Linked DNA regions of Homo sapiens. The protein of the gene in region 2 purifies or fractionates together with the protein of the main gene of each other region. This does not show direct contact. Each region holds a gene or a part of one and is shown on either strand. Other genes may lie near its edges.

Evidence for each region.
Region 1: the proteins of SLC30A9 (region 2) and COQ7 purify together in Homo sapiens (affinity purification with mass spectrometry; one large-scale study listed by BioGRID and IntAct). This does not show direct contact.

Annotation. Positions count from the first base shown.
Region 1 is NC_000016.10:19,074,114-19,077,935, reverse strand, and holds part of COQ7 (NADPH-dependent 3-demethoxyubiquinone 3-hydroxylase, mitochondrial), read right to left. Parts: intron 2,216-3,822; coding exon 2,076-2,215; intron 631-2,075; coding exon 562-630; intron 1-561. UniProt on the Homo sapiens protein: Catalyzes the hydroxylation of the 5-methoxy-2-methyl-3-(all-trans-polyprenyl)benzoquinone at the C6 position and participates in the biosynthesis of ubiquinone.
Region 2 is NC_000004.12:42,067,024-42,070,845, reverse strand, and holds part of SLC30A9 (proton-coupled zinc antiporter SLC30A9, mitochondrial), read right to left. Parts: intron 3,762-3,822; coding exon 3,654-3,761; intron 321-3,653; coding exon 155-320; intron 1-154. UniProt on the Homo sapiens protein: Mitochondrial proton-coupled zinc ion antiporter mediating the export of zinc from the mitochondria and involved in zinc homeostasis, zinc mobilization as well as mitochondrial morphology and health.

The DNA.
Region 1 (3,822 bases), on a different chromosome or scaffold from region 2:
TCAAAAGGTCGGAATGCCTCTGCTACTACTGCCAAAGCATTGGAGTCATCCAGATTCTCACAGGAAAGGAAATGAAGCTCCTGGGAGACCAAGGCAGGCAGCTCACCTGAGGTCAGGAGTTCGAGACCAGCCTGGCCAACACAGTGAAAACTCGGTCTCCACTAAAAATAAAAAATACAAAAATTAGCCAGGCATGGTGGCATGCACCTGTCATCCCAGCTACTTGGGAGGCTGAGGCAGAATTGCTTGAACCTGGAAGGAGGAGGCTGCAGTGAGCTAAGACTGCACCACTGCACTCCAGCATGGGAGACAGAGTGAGACTGTGTCTGGGAAAAAAAAAAAAAAGCTTCTGGGGAAAAGGAGAAGGCATAAAGCAAGAAAGGAGATTCCCAATCTGGAGCAATAATGCGTTTGCTTGCTTTTTGTCAAAGCAACGTCATTGGTTTTCTCTCCCTTTCGCTGTCACTTTAAAATGTATTTTTCTGGCAACAGAAACCTCCTGCCCCTTCAGCCTCCCAAATAAGGAGTCCCAAAGCAGAACAGGTAACAGTAGGGCCCTACCAATTCTGCATCATGGTCGAGGCCTATGTCATGGTGCTCAAGCTCTTCATCCCGAAATTTCTTTATCAGCTGGTTAAATAAAAAGACACCAAAGCAAGTTAGCCTTCCAACTCTCCTGCTGTTCCATTTCATTTTGGAGGCTAAAGCCTCTTATTATGGCCTAAGACAGGGAGGCCAGCTTTTCCTCTAAAGGGCCAGAGAGTAAATACTTTGTTGCAACTACCCAACTCTGCCACTGTAACCAGAAAAGCAGCCGGAGACATGCAAACAAATGGACGTGCTTGTGTTCCAATAAAAGTTTATTTAAAGAAACAGGTGGCTGGCCACAGGCCATAGTTTGCCAACCTCAGATTTAGACTCTAAAAAACTAAACAGTTCCCTTATTTGCTGTGGAAAATTATCTCAGGATATCTATTCATTTATTCAATCTAAAGGGTTCCTGCTCACAGCATCTGCTCAGAATCTACCAATGATAAAGAAGTGGGCCGGGCGCGGTGGCTCACGCCTGCAATCCCAGCACTTTAGGAGGCCAAGGCAGGAGGATCACCTGAGGTCAGGAGTTCCAGACCAGCCTGGCCAACATGGTGAAACCCCGTCTCTACTAAAAATACAAAAATTAGCTGGGCGTGGTGGTGCATGTCTGTAATCCCAGCTACCTGGGACGCCGAGGCAGGAGAATCGCTGGAACCCGGGAGGCGGAGGCTGCAATGCAGGCGGAGACCACTGCACTCCAGCCTTGGGGACAGAGTGAGACTCCATCTCAAAAAAAAAAAAAAAAAAAAAAAAAAAGTGAACAGCACCAGGTGGTGTGGCTCACACCTGTAATCTCAGCACTTTGGGAGGCCGAGGCAGAAGAATCACTTGAGCCCAGGAGCTCAAGACCAATCTGGACAACATAGAGAGAGACTGTGCCTACAAAAAATTTTAAAAATTAAAAATAAAATAAGTGAACAGGACAGGGCTCAAGAGACAAGGGTTCTGGCCGGATGTGGTGGTTCATGCCTATAATTCTAGCACTTTGGGAAGCTGAGGAGAGAGGACTACTGGAGCTCAGAAATTCAAGACCAGCCTGGAAAACATAGTGAGACCCCATCTCTTAAAAAAAAAAAAAAAAAAAAAATTAGCTGTGAGTGGTGGCTATGTATGTAGTCCCATAGCTACTCGGGAGGCTGAGGCAGGAGGATCACTTGAACCCAAGAGTTTGAAGATGCAGTGAGCTATGACTGTGCCACTGTACTCCGGCCTGGGCAACGGAGCAAGACCTCATCTCTAAATAAAAAGAAAAAAGACAAAGGAGACAAGGGTTCTAGTCCCAGCTCTGTCTGTGCTGTATGGCCAGGGCAGACGGGTTCACCTCTCTGTTCCTCAGTTTGCTCACCTTTAAACTGAGGCACTGACCTGAGCCTCTAAACCCCCATCATCCCCTAACAATCTCTAACATGTTTTCCTCTTACCCAATTGCTATCTGCCATTTTCCTCCTTGAGCAGCCCCGTTCTAGAGCACGGATAAATACCTGAAGAAGTTCCTCGTATTTTTCAGGGTCCTCCTCCATCAGCGTCCTGATCTGGTTGTTGTAGTGATGTGCTATGCTCTCTTCCACCGCCACGGTGCAGGCCATGGCACCTTCCTTCCCGAGCAAGGCGGTCCCCGCCCCTGGGATTGTTAAACCCAGACCAGAAAAGTAAGAGACAGATATGACCGGTAATGGAGACCATCTGTGGCCAGGGCTTCTTAACCTCTGCACCAGACATCGGGCCGGGTCATTCTTTGTGACAGGGGCTGTCCCATGCATGGTGGGATATTTAACTGCATCTCTGACCTCTACCAACTAGATGCCAGCAGTGCCAACTAAGTTTTGACAATCAAAACTGTCCCGAGGGCTGGGCACAATGGATCACGCCTATAGTCCCAGCACTTTGGGAGGCCGAGGCGGATCACCTGAGGTCAGGAGTTCGAGACCAACCTGGCTAACATGGTGAAACCGTCTCTACTAAAAATACAAAAATTAGTCAGTGTGGTGGTGGGCGCCTGTAATCCCAGCTACTTGGGAGGCTGAGGCAGGAAAATCGCTTGAAGCCGGGAGGTGGAGGTTGCAGTGAGCCAAGATCACGCCACTGCACTCCAGCGTGGGTGACAGAACAAGACTCCATCTCAAAAAAAAAAAAAAAAAAAAATGTCCCTAGGTATTGCCACATGTCCTCATCAGGGGGACAAACTCACCCTGAGGGAGAACCACTGTTTTAGGAGACACTGGATCCCAGTGTTAAACCTGGAATTACACAGTTAAGAAAAACCATTCTCTTTTCAATGCTGTTTTATCCTGACCGTGGCCAAGAGAAGTCAGCATTTGGGGTGAGTATATCTTTGATCTTTTATACCATTTATTCTTCTCCGTTTTTTAAAAGAGTGAACAGATCTCAGGTTGAGAATCGTTGTCAGGGAACAGTATTTGGCTGCAACTGAATTCTACTAGCTTTTTTTCTCTGTTGTTTATTTTTACTGTATTTTCTATTTATAATACTGACATTAGGCCAGGTGCAGTGCCTCACGCCTGTAATCCTAGCACTTCGGGGAGGCCAGAGAGGGAAGATGGCTTGAGGCCAGCAGTTTGAGACCAGCCTAGGTAACATAACGAGACCCCATCTCTACAAAAAAAATAGAGCTGTGCGTGGTGGCATGCGCCAGTAGTCCAAGATACTCAGGCTCAGAGGCTTAGGTGGGAGGATCACTTGAACCCAAGAGTTTGAGGTTTCAGTGAGCTACGACTATACCACTGTACTCCAGCCTGGGCAACAGAGTGAGACCCTGGCTCTGGTTTGTTTTTTTTTGTTTTGTTTTGGTTTTTTTTTGAGACAGAGTGTCGCTCTGTCACCCACGCTGGAGTGCAGTGGGCCAATCTTGGCTCACTGCAACCTCCAGCTCCCAGGTTCAAGCGATTCTCTGGCCTCAGCCTCCCAAGTAGCTGGGATTACAGGCACGCACCACCATGCCCGGCTAATTTTTGTATTTTTAATAGAGTCGGGGGTTTCACCATGTTGTTCAGGCTGGTCTCGAACTCCTGACCTCATGATCTGCCCGCCTCGGCCTCCCAAAGTGCTGGGATTACAGGTGTGAGCCATCACGCCCGGCCTTTTTTTTTAAAGTACTGACATTAAGATTCTATCTTAAATAAATTTAACCACACACAAAAAAAGGCAGTCAATTTAACCTCGGAAAAATATGAAGTAAACAGAATGAGGTCATAAGAGGACACAGCAAGA
Region 2 (3,822 bases):
TTACTTCCAGGATTATAATTCTGAAAAGTTACAGACTAAAACGTTCTGAAGACGAGGAATCCAAAACTTCCTCTGGAAGTATTTACAAACCAGGCATTTCTGTTTTTTAATATGTTTTTGTAAGCCTTAACAGGATTACTGGAATAAGGCTGACCTTACTGATGGGTCATTCTCCAGGAGTTCAGTGAGCCGTTGTACTTGTTCTGGCTGGATGGACCGCCCTAAGAGTGCTTCTGTGTTAGTGTAGATGAGGAATGCTGAGACCATGCCTAATAAGGTGCCCACACCCAAAGAACCTAGGCTGTCATACAGTGGATTGCCTAAATGAAGCACATAAAAAAATCAGTAAATTAACAGTTTATATTATTTCAGTGAACTTTATAGAGAGCAAAGAACCAGAACGAGTAAATCAAGGCACTTGAAATTTATTCCTAATTTCTTTAATTACTTCCTTTAACAACTCCTAATAGTTTTAATATACCACAAAATGAGGATGCTACAACTTGCTTTCATAAGAGTACTATGTGACATAATTAAGATCTCTTACTTGTACCTGTCATTACATATGTGAAGTTTCTGAGCACATTTAGATTAGAGACACCAATACAAAAAAATGACATAATGAAGAGTCCATTTCTTTTAGATATATCCATAGCACTTTTCCTACACCAGATAGACAAAATAACAGTGGAATCAAAAGCTGAAAGAAACCTTTTTCCGTATCTTCTTCCTACTAATGTTCTGTAAGAGAATTAAGCCCTACAGAAAATAATATGGGTGACTCTCTTCTCATCCAACCAAGGATGATATATAGCTAGTATCATTCTAGATAAAAAGGAGAGAACTTAATTCATTACATGCCATAGGTGCCTCAAGGTGGTGCTTCTCAAAGTGTGGTTCCTGGACCAGCAGCCATCACTTGAAAACTTGGTAGAAAAGCAAATTCTCAGACCTCATTTCAGGCCCCTGAATAAAAAATTCTGGATGTGGGTTTCAGCATTCTGTGTTTCCCCAAGCCCTTCAGGTGATTCTGATTCTAATATTTGCCTTAGGTTGTCAGGGCTTCTCTCCCAGAACCAATGAGAAAGGCTGATTTATCATCTATGAATGTATAGGTAATATTTATATAATAGACACCAATAAATACGTTTTAAATCTTTATAATAAATTTTACACATGGCTTTTATGACTACAAGTCTTTTTATCCCAAAGATGAAATGTCATCAATATATTTAACTCTTCTTAATGCTTGATAAAACATATATTTTGCTAAGCTGTAACACTAAAAAGCAAACTTGTTAATCTATACTAAGTGTTAAAAATGATCCGCTTGTAAAACATTATCCATTAGAAGTTTTGTAATTATAGAGCTCAAAATCAAATACTGCTCTTTAGAAATCCAAATGTGAAGAGTTATTTTTATTTAAATATATACATTCATGTACTCTTAAAGAAATTACAGGAATATTAGCTGAAAGAAAATACCTTTTTTAAGAAAACTTTTATTTCTTGGCATGTTATTTAATTTAATTTGAATAAATTAGCTAATTAAGAAAAATTTAATTCATGTAAAACACATTACATATTTTTGTAAATTTGATTTGATTGGTTTCTATTATTATGTAAAAGAAAATAAATTATTCAAAGTTGACATCTGCATCAAGTCACACTTTTCTTAAGCCTAAAATTTTGCTAGTAATTTATGTTCAAAAACAGTCTAAAACTATATGGTCAACCAGAAAAACAATCAACATTTTTACAAATATTTTGGATCACAATAAACATCAGAGAATGCTAGTTTGGTATTAAAATGCACACTCAGAATGAGAAAGAAGTATTCATATTTCAGACTATTTGAAGAAACACTGCAGAACTGTGGAAGCTCGTCACCTAAAATTATTTTAAATATGTAAGGACAAATAGAGAAGTATGGAAGAAGTTCCTTTCCAAGAGAATTCCAACTTCATAAATTGAGTCTTTTCATGCTAAATGGTTGTTTTCGAAAATAAAAATAAAATAGAATTGTCTTTTCATTTACTTGTATTTTATTGGCCCTCAAAACACTTAATTAGCTACCAAAATAAGGACACAAACAACTTAGAATTAAAGAAATAGGAAGGCAACAGTAGTTATTATTGGCATTAAGTGTGGAAAAAGACAAATGAACAAGAGCCACAATATACGGTTAAGTCCTCATTCATGTTGTCAATAGGTTCTTAGAAACTGCGACTTTATAGGGAACAACATATAACAAAACCAATTTTACCATAAGCTAACTGATACAAACAAGAGTTAAGTTCCGGCCGGGCGTGGTGGCTCATGCCTGTAATCCCAGCACTTTGGGAGGCCAAGGTGGGAGGATCACCCCCGAGGTCGGGAGTTTGAGATCAGCCTGACCAATATGGAGAAACCCCGTCTCTAATGAAAATACAAAACTAGCCGGGCGTGGTGGCGCATGCCTGTAATCCCAGCTACTCGGGAGGCTGAGGCAGGAGAATTGCTTGAACCTGGGAGGTGGAGGTTGCAGTGAGCCGACATGGCACCATTGCATTCCAGCCTGGGCAACAAGAGCAAAACTCTGTCTCAAAAAAAAAAAAAAAGAGTTAAGTTCCTATGGCATATTTCTGGTCACAAAAACATCACTCAACTTCTAAGACCCAAAACATGTCTAATATTGAACACTGAAATAAATGTGGGCTACATATACATTTTTAAAAATTAATAAAAACTATGTAAAATAATTATTTACCCAATTTTTGGTGAATCAGTGAGTATCAGCAATAGTAGGGGTGGTGAGTTAAATCAAAGAATAAATGTTTGCAAAGTGAAAATTGTAAGGAACACCTATCACCACATAATTCAAAAATAAACAACCACAAATATGTAGGCTTGCTGAGCGCTTTCATACATCAGTTATTGTCCTGCATTTGTCTGATTATCATCTACTTGAGCCTATCCTAGCAGTTCAGGACACAGGAAGGAACCAGACCTGGCCAGGATGCCATCCCATGGCAGGGCACACTTACACACACCCCCACACTCACTCAGATTGGGACTATTTAGACACCCCAATTCACTGACCATGTACGGCATTGTGATGTGGGAGGAAGTTGGGGTGCCCAAAGAAAACCTATGTAGATAAAAGGAGAATGAGCAAACTCCACAGAGATGGTAGCTCCAGTTAGGAATTGATATTTTTCGCAACAATGTTATAACAAAATCAAGTTGAACAAAACAATGTTATTTGAGGACCTATGTATATTTATTTGGAACTTTAGAGTTTATTAAAACTCTCATATTTTCTTAATAAACCTAAGAGGTTACCAAGGTAAATATTATCCACACTTTTATAGGTAAATAAAAAGTTCAGAGTGATTGCACAATTTTTTAAGTCACAGCTAGAAAGACGTACAGCATTACAGAAATCCTTTACAAATAGCCTTCCTTATTTCTAATTTAGAGACATTTTTAATTCAAATAAACCTGAATACTTCTGCTGACCAAATGTCTTACATAAGTCAATGATTAGTAGGAATTAACATTTAACAATTTGTTGGTTTAATATTATTCAATGATATAAGAGAAAATTCCCACATATTAGAGAATTATTTAAGTAGGACAAATAAATCACCTGTAATTTAAGGAATATTTACCTGTTATAGAAGTAAGGCCCATGCAAGTGGCTGCTATTATAACTCCCAAGACTGCAGCAGTATCCTCCAATAATATCACATTTGTACTAGGATCACGACTTTCCATTACTAGTCATTGGGGAAGAGACAAGACAAGAAAATTTCTAAAATCTTAACTTGATACTATCAG